Homo sapiens: one gene and its partner. The protein of the gene in region 1 purifies or fractionates together with the protein of each later gene. This does not show direct contact. Each region holds a gene or a part of one and is shown on either strand. Other genes may lie near its edges.

Region 1 (8,559 bases):
TTGCTTACCTCCCATTAGGCTGAAAAAGTGAGGTACTTAGTTTCCTGGCTTTCTTTGTAGTTAGGGCTGGCCATGTAATCCAGTTCTAGCCAATGAGATAAAGGGGAAGTATTCTGGGAAGCTTTTAAAGAAGGACCAGATGCAGTTGGTGCCTATCTTCTTTCTTTTTCCTGCCTCAAACTTGAATATGGATGTGATTCCTGGAGAAGACTGCCATTTTATAGTCATGAAGTAATAATACAAGTACAAAAAGCCAACACACTTATGGACAGTGGAACATATATAGTATTAGATCTTTGAGGCATTCCTTTAAACCTAGAACATCTGATTTGCAGATTTGTGAGATAAATGAATACCTTTACTGCCTCAGCCACCATTAATGTAGTTTTCTATTGCAGTTAACACCCATCAACTGATATAACTGGTATTTACCATTGAGTATCTAAGGTTGTTCTCAGAATTTCACGTTGGAAATAAGTTGCCAAAGTACTAAAATCTAACGCAGTATATGGGTCAATAAAGACAGTTCACAAGACGGAATATATGAAGGGTAGCCAATCATCAGGCCAAATTCAACTAGCTGCCTGTTTTCCTAAATAAAATTTTATTCAAATGTGGACACACCCATTCCTTTATGTATTACCTATGCCCACAATCATGCTACAGATCAAGTAGTGGTGCAAAAGACTTTATGGTTCACAAAACCTAAAATATTTACTGCCTGGTCCTTTACAGAAAATATATGCATGCCAACCCATGCTGTAGGTAAATTCCTATCATGCTACTCAAAAGGTATAAAAATTTGATAAGAATAGTACACAAAGATATGGTTTTACTTTGAAAAATATTTTTTGTACTAAGCTGTGGAACAGATGCTGCATGTGTTGATAGTACACAGAAAGAAGTGCAAGATGCCACAACCCTGTTTGCCAAACTTACCGGGAAAATAATAGTGCTCTCAGGTTAAAGTATAAAACACACAGAGTAGATGAGAGTGTAGTTATGAAGAGTCACCTTATGAAGAAAGAAAAGCTCCCAGGCTGAGTCTCAACTATGTAATACTCAATGTAAGCGTTGGGTAACAAGAAGTAAAGAGGTGGGTGTAGGAACTTAGCAAGAGAAGCGCCGGAAAGGAAGTATGACAGAAGCAAATTTGAGTCTCCTAAGAGAATTTAGAGGTGAGGATATTGTGGGCTACAAATAAGAGGGAATCTATAGTCTATATGACAGATATCTCCATAAAATAAATATAAATGATACCAGCCATTAAAGTAACTAACTTCCTTTGGTCTGATTCCATGGTCACCAAGCAACCTTCAGATTATTACACAGCTTTTCAGTTAGATTTCCTACAAAAGATAAAGTAATGTGCCTATGAAAATGAGAATTTGGTCTTTGGTTAACCTGGCTGTACTGGAGAGCACTGAACCCATCTCGAGATGCCAATGACACTTCTGAGTTTGCAAGCCAGTGCCCTAGATAGACTCTGGAATTCACCCAGGAAGCGCGGACTAATCAGCTTTCTCTGAAGATAACTGCTCACACACCCAGCCAACTATTTTAAACTAGAACTGATGTTCCTATTGGATTAAAGCCTGACACGAAGTATGTATTTTTCAGTTTAAGCACAGGACAGTTAGTTTTATGAAGTATTTTGAAAATGCATGAACTTAATGATTTAATATTAAAAGCTTATGGAGATATCCTAAACGGCAACTTAAATTACTCTTCCAGATAAAACATATATGGTACTTACATATACTCTTTATTAAATAAACAAAAACAATCCAACAACTGCTTGTCACCTTTTTAAGTATATTTTTATACTTACAGCATATATGTAAACAATATATTTTTCTTTCAAAAGTTAGTTATTACAGGATGCATTAACAAGATGCCCTCTGGGAAAATTTCAGCTTTCTTTTAATGAAACTTATTTCAAGGTTAAGTTAAAAGAAGTCACACTAAAGGGAAATCTGTTGTCTTCTTCGGGAAAATGATATAAGAATATTAATAATCTAATAGAATAAATATGCTTTCAATAATGAAACAAAAAAACACAACTTCGCAGCTGGCTATTTTTATTGTCCTTTGAAGAATTCTCTCCCAAGCTACTGAAACTTAAAGTATCACACTGTGACAGACTTTAATCCCATCTTACCTGGTGTCCACATTTCTAAAGAAGCTGCTTATTGCCTCATCATAAATTCCTTTCTAAAAAGAAAAACATATGTTAATAGCATTTAGGTTTTGCTTCTCGCCCAAATCAAGTTCTTTCAATTTTAATTACATAATACTGTAATGGCTAGGATGAGACTCTGATAAGAAAAACCAAGTATCACAAAATGCGGAGCCTGACTCTTCCCAATCTCCTTAGAAGAGTAAATGCCAGATCTACAGATAAAAAGTTCAGCAGGGGGTGCTAAAGAAAGGATTTCACCCATAGGACTGTAGGACAGGTCCATCAAATGAGCGTTCTCTGGATTCTTCGTAATCTTTTTAAAAGCTGACTGGTTAAATTAAGGAATACAATAACCACACGTGTTATCTATTTTACAAAGTACTTTCCCATATACAAATCTCACTGTTCTGCACACGAACACCAATAAAGAGGAGACCCTGAGAATCAGGAAAAACGTTAAGACTAAGGTCGCTGGCCAGTGTTCTTTTAGTTTAGTGTGTGTCTGACGCAACATGTTTAAAAACCAGTACGTTCTTTACTGGGAAGATCCCATGCATCTTAAACGGGTCAGATGAAAGCTCAAGTCGATTATTTCCTGCGTATGGGCTGGAAGACCTAGCTGACAGGCGAGGGGGCTCGCGGCGGCGGGCGGGTACCTGGTTGACCGCGGCGTGCTCCCTTAGTGCCAGGTCCCAGAAGCAGCAGCCGATCTGGTTTCCGCACTGGCCGACTGCGACCGGAGGAGAGGAAGGAAAGAGAATAGGACATTAAGCAGGAAACATGGCCGCTGGATTCCGCGGCGACCAGGTCTCTACCCGCCCGGCGTAGCTTACCCTGTACGACCACCGACTGGGTCATGGTGGTGCGCCGCCGGCTCCGGGAGCTTGCTAGCCCGCGGCCGCTTCTGCATTCCCCCAGCAACGGCGCTCTGCTAGAGAGCTGCCGTAAGTCACGCTACTGCCGCAAGCCTCTGCCGTCGCTAAGCACGTCTGTAGGTTCAGGCTAAGGTTTTCCGTCAGAAGGCCGCGCAAGTGCACTTGCGTGTCACCGTTACCGTAGCGACTGGGCTTCTGGACTGTATATCCTAGCTGCCTTGTCAACATCTTCGAGCATCGGCAGCTCCGGAGGCCGGGGTAACTGGCAGGTAACTAGGCTTTGGAGTGGTATTTTAAAATATGTGTCGTTAAGCTGTTCGTGGGCTATCAGAGGTTTAATTTTTGTTCACAGCCTCAACACCCGGGGCGGTGGATCAGTCCGTTTATTCAGATTCCACGGGACGCTGCGTTGGCATCTCTGTTCAACAAGCCCTTTATTCTAATAGAAAATGAACAATGGCGTTGAGCAAAGAGAAACCCCAGAGAAATAGTCATGTCAGGGCACAATTGAAACTAGATGGTTATACGCTTTGACAAAAATGGCAAAGCTAAGGTCACAGACCCAACCAGTATTTGTTGAACGCTGTATACTCCCCAAATTAACTTGTAGGCTCGCTGGGAAGATTAGAAAGAAATTAAGGCATAGATCCAGTTCCAAGAAGCTTACAATCTAATTGAAGACATACACGCGAAATACTTAAAGAATTGTGTGGCGTTGACTATAAGTGCAATAGGATTCAGTGGTTGAGGATGTAGATGAGTATGTAGAAGTCTGATAGAAGACACGAGATTAACACTAGGCATTTAGATGGGTATTTAGATGGGATAGGCAGGAGAAGATTAAAAAGTTAGGCATTATGACAATTACCAACTACTTAAAATTGTCAAACATTAAAATATGTAAACTTCTATTGATCAAATTAGACCAGATTTTAATTAAGAACTCAAGTACTTCTTTAATGAAATTAATATTTTCCACAAAAATTCTGAAGAACTACGAAACTCTAAGAAGTCTTCTTTGTTTAATAAAAAGTTATATGGTATGTGCTATGAATATGTGCTAATATGAACTGTAATATTCAATGGATTAGAACACTTTATTGTCCCACCAAGACACGTAGTAGTTACTATTAAATTTCTCTGGTAGCCGGTAGGTTTAAAGTTGCAATGGATTTTATATCTTTTGGTAATAGGCAGCTTTCGGTCAGTAAATTTTTGTAGGCTGGATTTATTCTTAACTTCTTACTGAGTATGGGGTCAGTGGTAGAGGTAAAGTTGGGCATTTTAGGTCTTGATGCTAAAGTCCCAACGTCTGGGGCTTCCAAAATTTGCAAGTCTTGGTCCAGTTTGTAGGCAGTGATGTGAATAGGTCTGTATCAGTGTGTTATCAGTGCTAGGTGAGATGATACACTGGCCTTTGCAGAGCCCTACCCTTCATGCAGTCCCAGTCATTATTCCCCACACAGGAAAGAAAAGTCCTAACACATCTTATTAATAACTTCAGTCTCTAGAGAATCAGACTGAGAGACAGTTCTGCTTAAGAGCCAAGCAAGGTAGAGCCTCACATGCCAGCCACTCCAAAACTTCCGTATATGCAAACCCGGGTGAGCCAAGTTGAGATCGGTTGAACCGCAGCGGGCTATTCAGAATATTATAAGCAAGAGAAATGTTTTTGGTTGAAATTACTGAAATTTTGGGGTGCAGTTTTATTGTAGTGATAGCTGACCAACATACAGAGCAAATAGAGTGAACAGAATTCCACATGCTGAAAATGAAAAAGAAAAAAATTATTGGGAATCCTATGGACTCCTAAAATTGAAGGAAGGAAGACAAGGATGGAAGGGAGAGAGGGAGGGAAGGGGGAGAGGAAGGAAGGAACGATGTAAAAGATGGATAAAGTACAAGACCTTGGGGTAAAACCTAGCCTAAGAGGGGAGAAAAGAAAATTCATCATATCTACTTTGTGCTGAAGAAGAACTTAAGAATATGAATGCAATAAAACAGGAACTTAAAGACAAGATACTAAAATAATAAGACTCAAGCTCTATGAGGGCTGAGTCTTGTTGTTTTATCCACTACTAGGGATAGTACCTTGCATATAGTAGATAGTAAATAAATATTTGATGAATAAATGAAATAAAATGGAGATAAAAGAACTAAGGAAATTAACTGAAGACAACAACATCCACCTTAAAGGACTTAAAGAAATAATTTTTAAAAGCATTTAAGAAGCAGACTAGAGAGATGCACATCAAATTATAATGTAGAGGAAAGTCTTAAAATAATAACAATACTAGGCAAAACCCAGAGATATGAAAGTTATTAAAAATAATATGTATGAAGGAGACAAAGATGGCTCAACATAAGATTAACATGTGCCCACAGCAAATGGAGGAAAAAATGTACTTGATAAAAAAAAAGGAAGAAAAATACATAGATTAAAAGGATACACACTATGTTCTATAGGACAATTTATAGAAAAATCAACACCAAGACATGCAGCCTCATTAAGGCATTCAACTTTTCAGAATAAAGAGAGAATTTTTTAGGTACCTAGGCATGAAATGAACGGGGGAGTGGGATGAAGAAAAAACAATTAATTAGAGTACTTTAGACTCATCTATATAGCACATTCAGTACTGGAAGGCATTGAAAACATGCTGCAAAGTTCTGAAGGGGAATAAAATGTTTTAGAAGAAAATTATTCTGTAGCTTTTGTAAGTTGTCATTAAAATATAATTCAGAGTTGTGGGTGGTCTGTTTTTATTCTTGCTTGCACACCGCCATTTCTGAGCTCATCTCTTTCTCATATAACTTGACAAACAGTAGCAACTGACATGTTATTGTTTTCCAGCCTCTTCTCCCAACATTTAAATTCATTAGTTAAATCACATGCCTTCTAGGTTATCACAGAGTTTTCCAAAGATTTTTCCCAATAGGTTTGTTCCTGGGTGACATAGATCACTATCCTTTTAGCTTTCCACAACAGTTTCCTTGTTAATTGCTGCTTGACCACTTAGGTATGGTGACTTATATTTTAGATTTTTGTTATAGCGGTACCTAAGTCTGGACCAAAGTCTGTATACATCAGCATAAACTTTGTTGTGCTGTGGTAACAATCAACCCCAAAATCTCAGTGGTGTAAAACAACAATTTTTTTTTTGTACATGATACATGTCCATTGAGGGGTGTCTGGGGGCTATGCTTTATGTTATCCCCCTTCTGGCACTCAGGCTGATGATCTGCCATTATTTGGTCCATTTTTGATTTGTTTGATTTTAAATTGATTAATTATTGTGTATATTAATGGGGTACAGTTGATTTTTTGATAAATATTTACATTGTGGAATGATTAAATCAATCTGATTAACATATCCATCATTTCACATACTCAGAATTTTTTTGTGATGAGAACATTTAAAATCTGCTCTTTTAGCAGTTCTGAAATATATATTATTAATAACTAGTCACCATGCTATGTAATAGATCTATAAAACTTATTCCTCCTAACTGAAACTTATTGTATCCGTTGGACATCTTTCTGATCTCTATCCCTGTCCCACCCTCCAGCTTTGCTACCCTCTGGTAACCACCATTCTACTCTCTACTTTTATGAGCTTGACTTTTTTAGATTCCACATCTAAGTGGAGTGTTTCTCTTTCTGTGGCTGGCTAATATCACTTAGCATAATGTCCTCCAGGTTTATCCATGTTGTCACAAATGACGGCATTTTCTTCTTTTTTAAGGCTGAATAGTATTCCATTGTGTATATATACCACATTTTCTTTATCTGTTTCTTTATTTGTTAGAGAGTATGCAAAAACAAAGCTCTGAAAATCTTTAAGGAGTTCCTCATGAGCCTAAACTGAGTGCTGATCCTTGCATGGATTCATGGAAACTATGTAAGACTGAGGAAAGAACCACTGGAAATAAGCGGGCAGAACAATTCCTAGGGTTCACATAGGGCTAGGACTAATTCACATTCCCCGTATCTTGAGTGGAGAAACCTTAAAATAGCTGGAACATTGAGTTGAGTACTCAGAAAGGTACCTCAGTAGTGAAGAAAAGTTAGCCCTGGATGAAAGGCTGTTGTAATCTAGCTTAAGAGAGCATGAAACCAAGCCTCCAAAGAACCAGGCTGTTTCCAAATAGCTGTGTCCCAGAACAAAACTTAAAAATACTTAGAGGAATAAAAATAAAATTGTTTAGCAATGTAAAATCACAATGCCTGGCACCCAAGTCAAAAATTGCCAGATATGCAAAGATGAGTCCCATAATGAGGTGAAAAATTAGTTAAAAACAGAACAAGAAATGGCACAAATGAAAGAATTAGTAAACATAATAATTACATAAAATTAAAAGAACATTAAAGCAGTATATGTTCAAGAGGACAGAAGGAAGCCCAGGCAGACTGAGAAGGGACAAAGAAATATGAAAAAGAGATCCCAATTAGACTTCTAGAGATGAAAAGTACAATATCTAAGGTGAAAAATGGATGGAATAAAGAGCAGATTAGACATTAGGCAAAAGAAAAGATTAGCAAACTTAAAGATGTAGCAATGGAAACTGTGCAAAATAAAACAGAGAACAAAAAGATTTTTTTAAAAAGGAGAACTAGTGCACTGTGGGACAACTTTCAACAGTGTAATATACATGTAACTGGCATGCCAGAGGAGGGAACAAAAAATACTTGAAGAAACAATGCCTAAAAAAATTTCAAATGTGATAAGTATTATGCACCCACAGATCCAAGAAGCTCGGTGAACCTTAGGCACAAGAAACAGAAAGAAACTATGCCAAGTACATTGTAATCAAATTGCTTAATATCAGTGATAAAAAGCAAATATTAAAGCCAGCCAGATAAAAAAGACATATTACATATAGAGGAACAAAGATAAAAAAATCAACAGACTTCTTGTTGGGAACAATGCAAGCTGGAACATAGTGGACCCAAATCTTTAAAGTACCTAAAGAAAACAAAACTGCTAATTGAGAATTCTATACCCAGTTAAAATATTGTTCCACAATGAATATGAAAAAAAGAGATATAAAAGCTAAATTAATTAATCACCAACAGACCAGCACTGTTAAATGAAACATTCAGGCAAAGGGAAAATTATGTTGTAAGAAAATCTGGACCTACTCAAAGGGATAAAGAGCACTGAAAATGATAAAAATGTAGATGAATATAGAAGGCATCTCTTGTTTTAAAGACAATTGCTTAAAGGAAAATGTATAACGACATGCATGGGGTTTGTACTATAGATAGAATTAAAGTATATGACAACAAAATTATATATAGTGGGAGAGGGGAAATGGAATATACTTTTATATGGTTCTTCTAGTATATGTGAAGTGGTATAATGTTATTTGGAAGTGAACTATGAAAAGTTAAATATGTATACTATAAACCCTAAAGTAACACAAAACAAAACACAAAGGTGTATAGTAATAAACCAATAATGGAATAAAATAGATTCATAAAATATATTCATTGATCCA
Region 2 (7,495 bases), on another chromosome or scaffold:
CCCAGGGTCCAAGTCCTGGGTTCAGAGGGCGGGGCGCGAGGGGCGGGGTCTCCAAGGGGCGGGGTCCCGGGGTCCCTGAAAGGCGCGGACCAGGCCGGATCCACCCAGTCTCGCGCCTGCAGCCCGTGCCGCCCCAGCCGCTGCCGCCTGCACCGGACCCGGAGCCGTCATGCCCAAGTGTCCCAAGTGCAACAAGGAGGTGTACTTCGGTGAGCGCGCCCACACCGGCCCCGCGAGGAGGCGCCGCCGACGGGGCGACGAGGCTGGGGACCGCTCAGGAGGACCGGGGGCGCTGGGTCCCTGGGGCGGCGCCCCAGCCTGAAAACGCCTCAGCCTGGCCCGCCGCCTGCCCCGGGATGAGGGTGGAGGCCCCTGCGTCCGAGGGCCCTGGCGATCTCTGCCTGCTAGTGGTCTTGCTGTGCTCGGCGGGCTACCTCTGGCTCTGAGCCTCCCCGTCTCTGGGTCCTACGGTCTCTGCCGTTTCCTCTCAGGCGCGCCCTGAGTGGGGGACCCGCAGGGCTGGAAGGAACGCGGGGCTGGGGCCGCGCCCCCCAGCGCTAAGTGGAAACAGACGCGGAAACCGACGCCCGGGGCGCGATCCCGGGCGCCCGCCTCCCTGCCCCGCGCCCGCGCGCCCCGAGGGGAGGGAGGAAGTGGGAAGTCACCCCTGTCCCCGCCGAGAAGGGCTGTCGCAGGCTCCACCCTTGCCACCGCAGAGGCCCGGGGCTGAAAGCAGGCAGCCAGGCCCAGGCCCTGCTGACCTAAGCCGCGACCCCTGACCCTCGGCCTCGCCCTCTAGCCCCACCCAGCCTTCAGGAGCAAGATTCCCGGCCGCACCCGAAAGTGCCCCGGGGACCAGCGACCCCGCGCTTTGTTTAGTTGTATTGGCTCTGGGGATTGGAGATGTTCCCCTCATGGAGGGTGCTGAGACCTTAGGGTGGGCTGCCAGGCTGGGCGGATGCGGGCTAAGTGCACAGGGCCTTGGGCAGAGCTGGCTGCAAGAGGCGGGTACGCCAGTGGTGGGTAGGCGCCGCGTCCTGCAGCGTCTCACCGGGGCCTGTCTGTGCCTCTGCAGCCGAGAGGGTGACCTCTCTGGGCAAGGACTGGCATCGGCCCTGCCTGAAGTGCGAGAAATGTGGGAAGACGCTGACCTCTGGGGGCCACGCTGAGGTAGGTGGGACCCACCCTGGTGGCAGGGGCCAGGGGTGATGGCACCCCCTCACGGCCCTTCTCTTTGCAGCACGAAGGCAAACCCTACTGCAACCACCCCTGCTACGCAGCCATGTTTGGGCCTAAAGGTATGCTCCCGTCATCCCCACCCCACCCCACCCCACAGCCTCCTCCACCCCAGCCTGTTGACTTTTTCCACCTTCTCTGCAGGCTTTGGGCGGGGCGGAGCCGAGAGCCACACTTTCAAGTAAACCAGGTAGGTAGGACCCCACCCCCTATCCTGCCTCCTGGTTCCACCCTCGGGATGGGGATGCCCCCTCCCAGGGAGGCCTGACCACTCGTGGGCCCCAAAGGAGGCCGTGGACGCTGCACTCACGTCTGTGCCTGTCTCTCTCTGCACAGGTGGTGGAGACCCCATCCTTGGCTGCTTGCAGGGCCACTGTCCAGGCAAATGCCAGGCCTTGTCCCCAGATGCCCAGGGCTCCCTTGTTGCCCCTAATGCTCTCAGTAAACCTGAACACTTGGAAAACCTGTGTGTGTACATGCGCGTGTGTGCTGGGGAGTGCCAAGGGAGCTGCAGTGGGGTCCTGGCAGCAGGCTCTGCCACCGGCGCCTGCTCTTCTGCTGCCCATTGCCCTCCCCAGGGGGCCGTTCCAGGGTCTCATAGGCGAGGGCTCCCTGTGCAGGGTGAGTCCAGGCCACCCTAGACAGCCCGCACCCAGCCCTGGCACTCTGAGTCCGCCTCGACAACTCCCAGATCCTCAGAAGTGCCTCTGAGCCCTCCTGGCCTTCTGGGAGTGGGGAAGGGGGGCTTTGCAGGCCACCAGCCAAAGGCTCAGCAGGCCGAGAGGCCTGGGGGCGGGCGAGGCTGGCCTCGGGTCAGAGGGTGAATCAGCTCATGCTGGCTCCCTTTCTGAGAGGCTCTGGGGGAGTTATGGGAACTCCTGGCCTTCCTCCTTTCCACCCCCCAACCCTGTCCTCATTCCCCACCCCTCCAGGCCAGGCCCAGCTTCTGCAAGGGCCTGATGAGGCTGCTCTGCCCCTGACCCAGGCACCACTGCCCCATGTGCGTCCTCATCTGCCATCTACCCTGTGCCCAGGGACTTACCCAGTGGCCCGGCGTCCAGTGGGGAACTTGAGTACCGGCCGTGCACAGGGGCTGGGGGGCCTTCTGGAAACTCCCTTGTCAACTCAGCCAGCCGCTGCTGACTGGCCACCTTCAGAGACCCTCTTCCCCACACTGGCTACTTAGATACCGGCCTTGGCAGAAGGCCACCCCTCCGGACACCCACTGGTTTAAAAGAGCCCAGGGGTCTGGCCCTGCCTTAGGGCTGTGGTGGGTGTGCTGCAGGCTCAGCTCGACAGGTGCTGTGGGGGCAGTCTAGGGTGGCCCGCAGGGTGGGGTGTGTGGGGGTGATTGGGGGATTCCTGGAATTCCAAGAGCTGGGAGCCACAGCACTTTTGATGGGATGGGGGCAGGGGGTGCTGAGGTGAGGCTGGTTTCTGGCTGGACGGTGGTGGGTGGAGCTGAGGGAACTGAGATCTTTGAGACAGCGACACCTGGTGCAGAGAAAAATCCGCAAGCTCGGGGGTTGGGAGAGCGCTGAACAAGGCCGCAGAGCTGCTCCGCCATCTCCCCCACGCCTCCTGCCAAGTTCTGTGGCGCCGCGGTTCCCCACCTCCTGCTCCCATCCCCCTGGCTCCCGCCGCCCTGTAGCTCGGCAGGTGCAGTAGGCGCTCCGAGGAGGAGGCCCCTTAGCTTCAAGAAACCCGCGTGGGCGGGGTGAGGAGCGCAGTCCTCCTACTGGCGCCGTGAAGGAGATCGCGATGCGCCGGAGGGAAGGAGGCTGCGGGCGGGGAAGGACGGAGGGCGTGCGGGGAGGGAGAGGAGGGGCTTGCTGGGGGGGGGGCCCCGAGGCGGGGCCGGGAGGGCCGCCTGGAAGAGGAGGTCGGGGGCGAAGGAGGCCGAGAAGAAAGGTGGGGCCGGGACCCCTCGGGCTGCGCCTCTCGTGGGCGTGTCCAGCCAGGGCTGGGGGTCCAGGGAGGACTGAGTTTCCCTCTCCCGCCGTCCTCGCAGCCCCGGGAGGTGCAGGGGCATCGCGGGAACAGCCCCGGTGACACGCTGCCCGGGGTCTTCACGAATGCCCGGAGGCGCCGCTGGCCAGAAGCCAGCCCGACCTTCCATCCCCGCAGACAGCCCCACGTTCCTCCCGGCCCGCGTCTTTCGGGGCCGCCCGTGCAGGCGGGCCCGGCTCAGCGGCGCCCGGGCAGCAGCTGCTTCCATGCGCCGGCTTCCTCCGGGGCTGCTCCGTGGCGGCGGCAGAGGGAAGCGCTGCCGCGGGCGGGCGAGGATCGGGAGCGCCTGAGGAGGCTGCCGCGGGCTCCGGCTGCGCGTTCGGGGCGGGGGAGCTGCCCGGGACTTCGCGCCAGGGGCCAGGGGCCGGCCGCGCTGGGGTCTGCGCTGTGCGGCGCGGCGGGCTCTGGGCGCCTCCTGGCGGCCCAGCCTGGAAGGCGGCGCGATGGGGCGAGGCTCGTCCGCTCCGACTGCGTAAGCGGCCCCACAGGGCGCCTTCCGGAGTCTGCGCGCTCCCGCCCGGCGGTTGCTAGGTTGCCAAGGGGCGTGAGGCGCTGATGGGTGGGGTCTGAGCGAGGCGGGGTGTCGGGTGTCGTGACGATTGAGCCTGCAAGGGCGGACTCTGCGGTGTTCTCCATATCAACAGCCCTGCCAGGAGCCCGGAAGTGGGTCCGCACGAGACAGAATAGACTACACTCAAACTCCAGGGGAACCGTTCATTGGGCTTGGACACGAAGGCGGGACCCTGCCGACGCAGTGATTGGATGCATGTCCGGCCAGCGCGGTGATTGGGTACAGGTCTCGGGAGCGCGGTGATTGGGTACAGGTCTCGGCCAGCGCGGTGATTGGGCGCAGGTCCCAGCCGGCGCGGTGATTGGGCGCTGGACCCGGCCCGTGCCATGATTGGGCTCAGGTTCCAGCCGGAGCGGTAACTGGGCGCAGGTCCCAGCCGCCGCACTAAACCCGGCCCGTGCGGTGATTGGACGCAGGCCCCGGGCCGCGGCGGAGGCGGGCGATCCGAAAGAGGCTGGTGCTGGCTGCATGGGGAGGCGGCGGCAGCGGGTGGACCCCGCGGCTGGGGCCCGGGCCGGGGCCCTGCCTGAGGCCATCGCCGCGTTGAGTCGGTCGCTGCCCTCGGGACCCAGCCCCGAGATCTTCCGCCGCGCCAAGTTCGACCGTCCGGAGGCGGTGACGCTCTCGCGGAGGGCAGGCGGGCCGGGTGGGGTCCCGGGCCCTCGCAGGGAGTTGGGCCGGCTCCGCTGACCGCCCGCTTTTTATTTTCCGCAGACCTCCGCGCTCTGGCAGCTCCTCTTCCGTGTGCTCTCGCCACTCCCTGCGGGCAACGCCTTGGCATCGCTCGCCCTGGGTAAGCCCCGCTCCTGGCCCCGCCCACCCGGTAGCACTGGCCCCGCCTACTCCTGTAAAGCCCCGCCTTCCCCAGTAAGCCCCGCCCCGGCAGGCTCTAGCCCCCACCCAACACTGACCCCGCTTGCTCCTCAAAACTCCGCCTTCCCCGGTAAGCCACGCCCCCTGATGGGCCCTAGCTCCACCCCCTTGGGTAGCACTGGCTTCTGCTCCTACAAAGCCCTGGGGACGTCCCTGTTGGCCCCTGGTCTCCTCATCCTGGTCTGAGTTCTAGCTCTCCCACTATCATCTCTTCTGAACTAGGCCTTGAGCTTCTGCTCAAGTGACCTGTGGGGGTCTCTGGAGGGATCCAGGTGGTGTCACCTCCAGGTGGGTGGTCCCCCTAAGGTGGTGGTCTTCTGTCCTAGAGGTCCAAGCCCGCTTGGTGAAGTCAGCACTATGCTCCCAGGGCTACCCGAGGCTGGCACTGGCACAACTACCTGAGGATGGCTCGCAGGGCAGTCGGGAGCTGCTGCTGGCTCTGTCCTGGCTCTTGGCCCGAGGACCTGTGCCCGAGCAGATGCTGGCCCAGGCCCGAGTGCCTCTGGGTGACGAGATGACTGTGTGCCAGGTGCGTGTGGGTGAGGGTGAGCTGAGCCAGCCCTGGTCTCAACTCCTGGGGCCAGAGCAAGGGCAGGCCTGGGTCAGCCCCCTCTGTCTGCTTTGCTCCTCAGGGCAGTCCCATGAAGGGTTACCCAGCTGCCCAGCTGAAAGCACGGAGGCTCCCTGTGCAGGGAGCACCCGTTGTTTTTGGCTGTGCCTCCACTACCGTCTCCATCCTGGCCTTTTCTGGGGGGCAGGGTGGGGTGGGAGCAGGGCCTGACCCTTGCCCCTCTCCAGTGTGAGGCCCTGGCCAGCCCTGGCCCACCTGCACCCCACATGGAAGCAGAGGGTCCTGTGGATGTCCGCCATGTGCAGTGGCTGATGGGAAAGCTGCGGTTCCGGTGGCGCCAGCTGGTGTCCAGTCAGCAGGAGCAGTGCGCCCTCCTGAGCAAGGTAGAGCTGGCACAGGGCTTCCACTCAGGGGCTGTGTCCCGTGCTGCAGGCCGCCAGCTGCCAGTCCCTGCAGCCCGTCCCGTGAGGCCTGGCACAGGCTTTTGGCTGGATGTGGGCCTTCCTGCCCTGGCTTACCCAAAGCCTGAGCCCGTGGTTCCCGGTGGTCCTTGTAGGGGGCAGGGCTGGGCAGGGAGCCCAGTGGGGTGGGCAATGGTGGGCAGAAACGGGTGTCAGAGAGCTCACAGAATTTGCCTTTCTGTTCCCAAAAGTTACCAGTGGACTTCCAGCTCTGTGAACAGTGGGATGGGGTCTGTGCCATGAAAGCCACTCCCTCCTGGGCACTGGAGGGGGAGGAAGACAGCTCCTGTTGCCACCACATCCTGGTGGGGGCTGACTTGCGGGGTGGACAGCTCCTGTGGGGTCCTGAAGGTGGCAGGGGCTGGCTCAGGGGCACAGGTACCCAGTGGTGTGTCCACTGTGAGGCCAGCGCTGACAGGTGGGTCTGTGGCAGCGGCGGGCTCCCACCAGCGCGGGACTCCTTGGAGACCCCCCCATCCCACCCTTGCAGAGGGTCTGTTGCTCAGCTGGCCTTTCCAGGGACCTCTCACCCCGTCGGGCCTGGCCTTGGCACCAGCTGCTCCGCTTACTTATGTGCCTACCTGTGACCCTCTGTGCCACCTTCCAGCCTCCCTTTTTTGGGGAGCCTTCCCCATTTCCCTAGATCCAAGCAGTCGTTCATGTCCCCACTGTGAGCCTGGCTGAACTGCTGTGCCTGTCCAGAGGCTGTTCCTCCCCCGATGCTGCTGGGGAAGCCAGGGCACCCCACTCCAATCTTGCTGCTGCTTGGAAGCTGGGCGGGGTGGGGAGGCCATCAGTGAAATTGCCTGGCGCCCCCTTGCAGGAGACCCCAGCGGTGCTGATGGTTGTTCTGCACCCAGCCCAGCCCCGCCAACCTCAGGCAAGGAGTGGCTTTCTCTGAGCCCTCTTTCCTCATCTGGGAGGTGGGCTCTGATGGCCGACCTCCCTGGACTCATGGAGACTCAGCGTTGGGGGAGGTGCTTGACTGCCACTCAGCCTGGGGTCTGCACTACCTGTTTTAGATCCACCTGTACACACGCGGCTGCCACAGCGACCAGAGCCTTAGCCATCTGTCTGTCACTGAAGCAGAGATGCTCAGGGACCCAGAGGGAGGCCAGCAGGTGAGGGCGGGCAAGCTGCTGCGGGGGGGTGGGGGTGGGCTGGGGGGCACAGCAGGGGGACTGCCCAGGGTGGGAGGGGCCTGGGGGCGGGGCAGCTCTTGGGCCTCCAGCGGTGGGTGTCTCTGCATGTCTGCCACTGATCATTGCCAGCCTGGGTGACAGACAGCTTCTCTGGGCCTCTCCTAGCCTCATGGGCCACTCACCCTTCCCTTCCACAAATCAAGACGTGGCACGGGTGGGGGCCCAGGACGCAGGAGCCTGGGCTGGGCAGGCAGCTGGCTAAGGGCAGGCTGTTGGAATAAAGGAACACAGATCTCAGGTGTGAGCTGGTGGTGTTGGCATCTCAAGCAGGTCTCACTTGGTGTGTCAGGGGGCACCTAGGGGTGTGGGGGGCCAGCCCACACTGGGTGAAGGGTTGGGCACAGGGCTGACTGTGGGAGGGGACAACTGCCCTTCAGAACCCAAGGCCAGGCCCACATGGGGTGTGCTGGACCGAGCCTCCCAAGCTGGAGCCAGCTCCATAGGCCCTGGAGACTTGCAGTCCCGTTCTGCTTGCTACACCCGGACCACCCGGGGGCACGGCGCTTTCTAGGCAGGCCTGCCCCCGGCGACCGGGGCTCTGTGGTCCCAGGCAGATCCTGAGCCCTGGATA

What was found.
Region 2: the proteins of TUBE1 (region 1) and TEDC1 purify together in Homo sapiens (affinity purification with mass spectrometry; 2 studies listed by BioGRID and IntAct, with this or other methods). This does not show direct contact.

Annotation. Positions count from the first base shown.
Region 1 is NC_000006.12:112,084,395-112,092,953, forward strand, and holds the start of TUBE1 (tubulin epsilon chain), read right to left. Parts: upstream 3,089-8,559; 5' UTR 3,041-3,088; coding exon 3,016-3,040; intron 2,913-3,015; coding exon 2,839-2,912; intron 2,215-2,838; coding exon 2,162-2,214; intron 1,350-2,161; exon of another isoform or gene 1,301-1,349; coding exon of another isoform or gene 1,281-1,300; intron 1-1,280.
Region 2 is NC_000014.9:105,487,091-105,494,585, forward strand, and holds the start of TEDC1 (tubulin epsilon and delta complex protein 1), read left to right. Parts: upstream 1-4,155; 5' UTR 4,156-4,285; coding exon 4,286-4,432; intron 4,433-4,531; coding exon 4,532-4,610; intron 4,611-5,016; coding exon 5,017-5,219; intron 5,220-5,488; coding exon 5,489-5,644; intron 5,645-6,744; coding exon 6,745-6,843; intron 6,844-7,495. Other genes in the region: CRIP1 (cysteine-rich protein 1), read left to right, coding at 170-209, 1,076-1,170, 1,241-1,298, 1,381-1,421. UniProt on the Homo sapiens protein: Acts as a positive regulator of ciliary hedgehog signaling. Required for centriole stability. May play a role in counteracting perturbation of actin filaments, such as after treatment with the actin depolymerizing microbial metabolite Chivosazole F.